2 separate regions of the Homo sapiens genome follow, and region 1 is reported to be linked to region 2. Evidence: microRNA targets listed by miRTarBase, many of them from high-throughput screens and not tested one by one. Region 2 holds a microRNA gene; the other region holds the end of a gene's coding sequence. Distances are between the middles of the regions.

Region 1 (3,388 bases), 120 Mb from region 2:
TGGCCCTCATCATTCTGTCTCCTCGCTCCCTATTCTGCTTCTCCTCCTAGGTGTCCACCTGTGAAAGGCACCAAACCTTAGTTTCTCAGGCCTCCTCTGCCTCCCTCACCCACACATTGCTAAGTCCTGTCTGGTCTGTCCACCCCCAGAACTTCTCCCAGATGCATCCCTTCTCCACATTCCCACCACCCACCACCCTAGTCTAGGGTTCAGAGTGTCTCTCCCAGACAGCTGCCTCCCACTGCCACTCCTGCCCCTGCTGACCATCCTCCAGGCTGCCTTCCCTGTTGAAATGTTCCAGTGGTTCTTGAGATAAAGCCAGGTTCCTTATGCTGGCACTCAAGGCCCGTCCTATATTGCCAGGCCCCTCCTCACACCAACCTTTTCCTTCCAGTCCAATTGAGCCCCAGCTTCAGCCACACATAATGCTGGCAGTTGCCCAAATGTGTCGCCACCTCTAGGAAGCTTTCCCTGAACCCAGGATCTTTGTTGATGCTGTCTGGAATATCCCTGCATCCATTCCATTTCTAAGGACTCCCATTCATCCTTCAGTCACAGCTCAGTTGTCATTTTCCGAGGGAAGCCTTCCCTGACCCCAGGCTGGGGTGGGCTTCCAGCCTGATCATCGTCTGTGTGGGGTTCTGTCTCCATTAGACTGAAACGGGGGGTTACCTGGGGGGAACCATGGGGCTGCCTCCCAGAACCTTCTTCCCCTTCCATTGCCTCTCCTCTGGCCTTGGTTTATACAGAACACCCCCTCCCGCTTTGCTCACTGGTCTCATCTGTCCCTGGTCAAGGAAGTGTCCCTCTAAGGTTTGTGGGGATGACTCAAATGGGGCCTAGGGCTCTGTCCACCCTCCACTGATACCTTCCAGAACTGCTGCCCATTGCCTGCCCGGATCCAGGAGATTGTGGTGGAGACGCCCACCTTGGCCGCTGAGCGAGAGAGGTGAGGGCGGGATGAGGAGGTGAGGGCCTGGGGGCGTTGGGTCACCGCGTGCTGATGGCCTCTGGGCTGTGCAGGAGCCAGGAGTCACCCAACACGCCGGCACCCCCGCTCTCCATGCTGCGCATCAAGTCTGAGAATGGGGAACAGGCCTTCCTACTGATGATGCAGCCTGACAACACCATTGGGGACGTGCGAGCTCTGCTAGCGCAGGCCAGGTGGGTGCAGGGCAGGGCCAGGGCCACAGAGGGGCTCTGGTCCCACTGCCCAGCCTGATCTGCTCTGCCTGGTCCCCAGGGTCATGGATGCCTCTGCCTTTGAGATCTTCAGCACATTCCCGCCCACCCTCTACCAGGACGATACACTCACGCTGCAGGCTGCAGGCCTTGTGCCCAAAGCAGCACTGCTGCTGCGGGCACGCCGAGCCCCGAAGTCCAGCCTGAAATTCAGTCCTGGTCCCTGTCCCGGTCCCGGTCCCGGCCCCAGTCCCGGTCCCGGTCCCGGCCCCAGTCCCGGTCCCGGTCCCGGCCCCAGTCCCTGTCCTGGACCCAGTCCCAGCCCCCAATAAAGCACCCGCCCCCTCAACCCGCTGCTCCGCCAGGCTCTTGGGTGGGCCATCTCGCCAGGCACGTAGGAAAGGCCTGGGACCAGCTGGGCCAGGGAGGGGGCGGTGCCGACCCGCCCCTTGGTAACTCGAGCCCCGGCTGGCGGGCCTGGCTGCTGGGTCTTTGTCTTCTAGGTTCCTCTTTCTCCCAAGAAGGGCTAAGTGGATCCTGTGAAGGGAGGGATGCAGTGGGGGGAAGGAGCTGGCCCCAGCTGGGTTTACATTCTCAGCTGGGACAGCAGAGCCTCACTGTGTATGTGTGCAGCCAGCAGATACCTGTGCACAGGCACAGACCCACCAACTCGTGGGGACACTTCAACACCGCACAAAGCCATTTTGCCACTAGACCCATGCCCCCAAATTAGCAGAACTGCAGCTGGGTACCCACCTCCCATGATACACTCATTCTTAGCCATTGTGCTCCAACACAGGCGCATGGGATGGCCACACTCACTGACAGGCATGGAGATGTGCACTACACACCAAGGCACAAGCATGATATGGACACATGCATGTGAACTGGAGGGTGGCCCACCCAGACATCTCCAGAAACCACTGGTCCATACAGGTATTTGTGTGTCAGACATATCCAAACACATGCACTAACAAACACAGAGGTGACAGTCACAAGAGAACAGCTCAGCCACCCTTCCCACAGAGCAGTCTCAGCACAGTCACAACTACCAACCTTGCCCAGGGCAGGGACCCAGGAGGCCCAGGCCACAACCAACCAGACACAGTGCCAATGGAACAGGACATCATTTAATTGCCTCTAGGGTCCTCCTGGGAGAGGGACTGCGGGGCCTTTGGCAGAGCTCTGGCTGATGGAACCAACAGAGGTGCCCATCAGCCAGTGCCAGGCAGGATGGCGGCCCCAATGCTTGGCTGGGGGCAGCCAGCATTTGGGGCTGTTGCTTAAGACAATTTCTGAGACTAATGGGTAAGGAATGTTGCCTTTAGATGGAGGAGAGGGGACTACATTTAGAGAGGAGGGAGGAGAAGTGGCCTGCATTGGGGGAGGGACTCTAAGGTTAGGTTAGGAATGACAGGGAGTTGGTCAAAAGGTCCTTCATGGCCAGGTGAAGGCTGGGGGGAGTGTGGTGATGGAGTCCAGCAGGGGAACTCTGGACAGGCTTGACTCAAGCCAGCTTCAGGAACTCCTGCAGCGTGTTTTGTTCCACAGCCTCCACGAAGAGCTCATAGTCCTGGAGAAGGGGAGGCGAGGGGTGGTCACCTGAATGCAGGGGGCCCAAGTGCTTTGTGGCAGATATGACCCTGGCTAGAGTCCTCTTCCAACACTCCCCCCACCCCCCCGTCCCCCAGCCCATACCCCACAGTACTGGTCCCCGTTGACAATCTGGGGTGGGGTGGCCTTGGGGTTGCCTGCCAAGGCTCGCATCTCATCCCTCAGGGCGTTGTCCTGGGAGATGTCCACTAGCTGGTATTGGATGCGCTTCCCATCCAGGATTCGGGTCACCTCGCTCTGCTGGGACTTGATCTGGGGACAGAGGGTGGGTAGGGGTTAGTGGATAGGCTGGAGGATTTATGGGGGAAATGCTGGGCAGGGTGAGAGAGGCTGTGACCAGGAGCTTTTGTCCCCCCATTCCCCTCCACACTAGGGGAGGGTTCTGGCCTCTAGGAGTTGGGAGGATGAGTCAGGCTTGAGGTGGTGCAGGATGAAGAGAGGGATTATCAGCCACGGGGGAGGGGGTCAGAGTGAAGGGAAGTGGGATCAGGCTCAGGGTGGGGAGGGGAGGGGAGGGCAGGCTGCGGTCGTGGTCAGGGTCAGCCCGGTAGTGGGAGTGCAGAGAATGGGTGTGGGGTTGATGGGGGATGGG
Region 2 (3,388 bases):
CTGTCTGAGCAGTTTCAGGGCTTAGAGGTTCTGCTTGGGGGGATGGGGTGTGGACAGACAGTTCTGTGGGAGGGAGCTCAGTTTGGGGGCTGCCGTTTGCGGAGAATGGCTCTGCTCTTGGAGTAGGGGACGGAATAGCCTCTTCCCCTCTAGAAGAGATCAGGGACAGCTCAGATCTGGGTGGGCTCCGAGGGTGCCTGCGGTTCCGGTGCAGTGGCAATGCAAAGGGCACTCTCCCATAACCGAACATTCCTGGCTTGATGGGGTCTCGAAGCCGGGACCTGAGAAGGTGTTTCAGATGTGGGGGCACAGCTCTGACCACCTCTGACCCTGTTTCCCCAGTTTACTTCCTGGCACCAAAGACAAGCCCTCTGAAGCCACCCGTGCTCCCCTTTCCTTCATGCTAAGCCCCCACCTTGCCCAAGGCCCACCTCTTCCACCCAGGCCTCTCACCTCCTGGCCGCTCGAATCTCCTGGGTCTCCTCTCTCCCTAGGTGGGAAGCGGGACCTCGAAGTGGGCCACCCCTTCCCCGAGACTGTGTCCTGTACAAGGGGAGGGTTTCTGGAGAAGTCTGGGGTCTGGGACCCTGGCCCCGGGGGAGGAGGGCTTCTGGATGTCTTGGGGGCCGGGGAGGGAGGGGCAGACTCGGGTGGAGCTGCACTGTAGGGAGCTGACATGTCCGGCTCCTGCGCTGCACCCCCACCCCGCAGGGCTGGGAGCAAGAGGCCCACTGGACCCAAGGTCCCCAGACACCTTCGGGGCCCTGGCCCTCCTCTGTAGGTGTCTGAAGAGAGTGTCCGGACAACACCTATATAGAGAAAAAGGTCAGACAGAATTGGAAGGATTAGAGGGAACTGTCCAGAGTGTCCATGTAGACCAACACTGAGGCTCACGGAGTCGCTACCAGTCCAAGGTCACATTCAGCAGCAGAGGGAGAACTACACCTCGGCCTCTTGGTGTTATGAGGCAAGGAACTGGGGAGTTGGCAGGGGAGGTGGGTGGGCTGTGGGGAATGGAGGCGTGGCCTGGAGAGATGGGGTGGGAGCCTAGGGGGAGATGAAAGGGTGGCAGGCAGGCTGCAGCTGCTCACTTGTCCAGAACTCACCTCCTGATCCAAGCAGAGCTGAGGGAGGGACAGAAGCAGCAGCAGATACAGCCAGGGCCTGCAAACCAAAGGCCAGGGGAGGGACGTCAGACTGGAGCCAGAGGGGGTGTTGCAACACTGCCCTCCGCCCCCAGCCGGCTCCCATATCCTGACTACCAACTTCTCAGAAAGCAGAAGTTACTCATCACTTCCCCTGCCCCTCCCAGTGGTCCCCTTTCCCTCACTTCCAGACACAGAGCCATCCCAGCACCTCCCCTTTTCCTCCCCCCCAACCCGTGGCCCCTTCTCTCACCTGCCAGTCCAGTTCTCCATCGCTCCCCCTCTACTGCCCCAGGGGGAGGCAGGAGCGGACTGGTCACAAAAACTACGCAGGCATCTGGGCGTGGAGGGTGCTCTCTGCAGGGACAGAAGCCTGGTGGTTACCTCTCCAGTGTCCAGAGAGCTTGGGGCTGGGAGGACAGCTCAGAGAATATGGAGGAGGGGGTGAAACTGGTCCATCCCTTTAGGATCCTCAGGGTGGGAGCAGGGAGGATCACTGCCTTGTCCATCTGTAGAGGCTACATGGTCAGGGGCTGACCTCAGCCCTCCAACTAAGGCTCAGTCCCCACCTCTGGGCCCTGTAGGGGCTTCTTAGCTCCTCCCCAAATCCTACCTAGGGACTGTTTCTAAGCCGGCTCAGGCACACACAAAAGGCTTTTTTTTTTTTTTTGAGATGGAGATCTCACTCTGTCATCCAGGCTGGAGGGCAGTGGTGCCACCAAAGCTCATTGCAGCCTCAAACTCACAGGCTCTCCTTCCTCAGCCTCCTGAGTAGGTGGGACTACATGCGTGCACCACCACACCCAGCTAATTTTGGTATTTTTTGGTGGAGATGGGATCCAGCTAAATTGCACAGGCTGGTCTTGAACTCCAGGCCTCAAGCGCTTCTCCTGCCTTGGCCTCCCAAAGTGCTGGGATGACAGGTGTGAGCCACCGCACCCAGCCAGAGGGCTCCTTCTAAAATGGTTGTCATCTGCTCCCACTCCTGCCCTCCCAGAGGTGCCTAGAAAGTAGAGGAGGAAGGCTCCACTGAGGATGCGCCAGACACTCTCTCTGAGGACCCACCAGAAGCCCCTTCCTTGGGTCTTCCAGACACAAGACCTTCCCCAGTCATCTCTCTGTCCTACTTGCCTCCCGGCTTTCTCTTCCCTTCTTAGATAAGCTCTTTAGGGAACATCCAGGCACATCTCATACACTTTTTGGCCAAGGGATAAGCTAAATGGGTTGACGGTTTAATCTCTAGAGAAGAAGCCGGCAATGTAACACCCACTCTGGGTGCCAGCATCTGGAGTTGGTTCAGTGAGGGCTTGTTTCCTGTGCGTCTCTACCAGCTGGGGAAGCGGGAAGGAGAGGTGCAGCCGGGGCTGCCTCATGCCCCAGCCACAGGCCTCTCATTCTGAAGAGCCGGGAAGTCCATCTGAAGTTCAGCTTTGAACACTGGAGAAGTGAGGCTTGGAAGCCACCCCAGCCACCAAGCCTGACTCTCTTTGCCCCCTTCTTCTCACTTTGAGTCCTTCCCACCCCTGCTCCTCATCCCACTCTTAGTTCTGCTTTCCAGGAAAAAAAAAATCTGTTTCTGTTGGATCTGAAAGGCACCCGGGAGAGGAATCCAGGGAGCCCTCGCATTGCTGAGGTGGGCCAGCTCTGGGGCAGAAAATGACCAAGAGAAGGGTAGGAATGTGCCTGGGGGCAGACACTCAGCCCCACTGCCCTCCCTGAGACCTAGGGTTCGGAATTTGAGGGAGGGGTCAGAGTGGCTGAGCCAGAGCGGGCGCCTCAGGGATTGGGGTTGGGGTGGGGGTTGCCGATGGCCACTCCTTCCCCTGGCTGGGCCGGCCACTAAGGTCAGCAACTCCACCCTGACTGAACGGGGGAGGCCAGGATCTCCAGAGAAGGGCCCATGTTCCACCCAAGTCTTCAGGCTCTGCCTGACTCTTGTTACTCCAGCTGAGGGAAGAAGAAATGGGGTGATAGTCACTGCCTGCCCCTTCTCTGATGCCGACCCCTCTTCATGCCCTCTCTGCCTCTGCTTCTCTCTGCCACCGAGATCTCTTCTCGCAGCCCCTCTCCACGGGTCTACCCAGTACACATAATCCCATCCCGAGCTGGGTTTGGCTTTGGCAGTTCCCTGGAGAAGTGAGGGGTGGGGGTGACGTGAGCTCCCGGGGCCCGGGCCAGGCCTGGCTCCCTCTCTGGAAAAGTCCCACCCCACCCTCCCCTGCGCAGCCCGGCAGGGGCCCATG

The links. Region 2 holds the annotated microRNA hsa-miR-4257 (CCAGAGGUGGGGACUGAG, at 1,703-1,720, opposite strand). A microRNA usually pairs through its seed, bases 2 to 8, with sites in the 3' UTR of a target mRNA and lowers its output. Matches are read on the target gene's strand: a 7mer-m8 pairs with bases 2 to 8, a 7mer-A1 pairs with bases 2 to 7 and ends in A, and an 8mer does both.
Region 1: miRTarBase lists SH3BGRL3 as a target of hsa-miR-4257. Seed matches in the 3' UTR shown: 7mer-m8 at 2,385-2,391.

What each region holds. Positions count from the first base shown.
Region 1 is chr1:26,280,425-26,283,812 of GRCh38, reverse strand. SH3BGRL3 (SH3 domain binding glutamate rich protein like 3) reads right to left here. Exons shown (of 3, transcript NM_031286.4): 2 at 2,881-3,048; 3 at 2,291-2,755. The coding sequence ends at 2,690. UBXN11 (UBX domain protein 11) reads left to right here. Exons shown (of 15, transcript NM_001389556.1): 13 at 876-949; 14 at 1,024-1,164; 15 at 1,244-1,531. The coding sequence ends at 1,514. Among named protein-coding and RNA genes, the nearest start is that of SH3BGRL3, 2.0 kb to the right of the region's middle. RefSeq lists enhancers at 2,432-3,318, 3,319-3,388 and a silencer at 3,372-3,388.
Region 2 is chr1:150,550,319-150,553,706 of GRCh38, reverse strand. It overlaps MIR4257 (microRNA 4257), which reads right to left and starts at 1,778; the gene lies at 1,693-1,778. It overlaps ADAMTSL4 (ADAMTS like 4), which reads right to left. Exons shown (of 19, transcript NM_019032.6): 3 at 1,399-1,502; 4 at 1,107-1,164; 5 at 454-809; 6 at 1-281. The coding sequence starts at 1,418. It overlaps LOC124904417, which reads right to left. Exons shown (of 1, transcript XM_047438226.1): 1 at 2,357-3,388. The coding sequence ends at 2,647. The region is part of intron 5 of ADAMTSL4-AS2 (ADAMTSL4 antisense RNA 2); the gene reads left to right. RefSeq lists enhancers at 1,045-1,914, 2,404-3,093.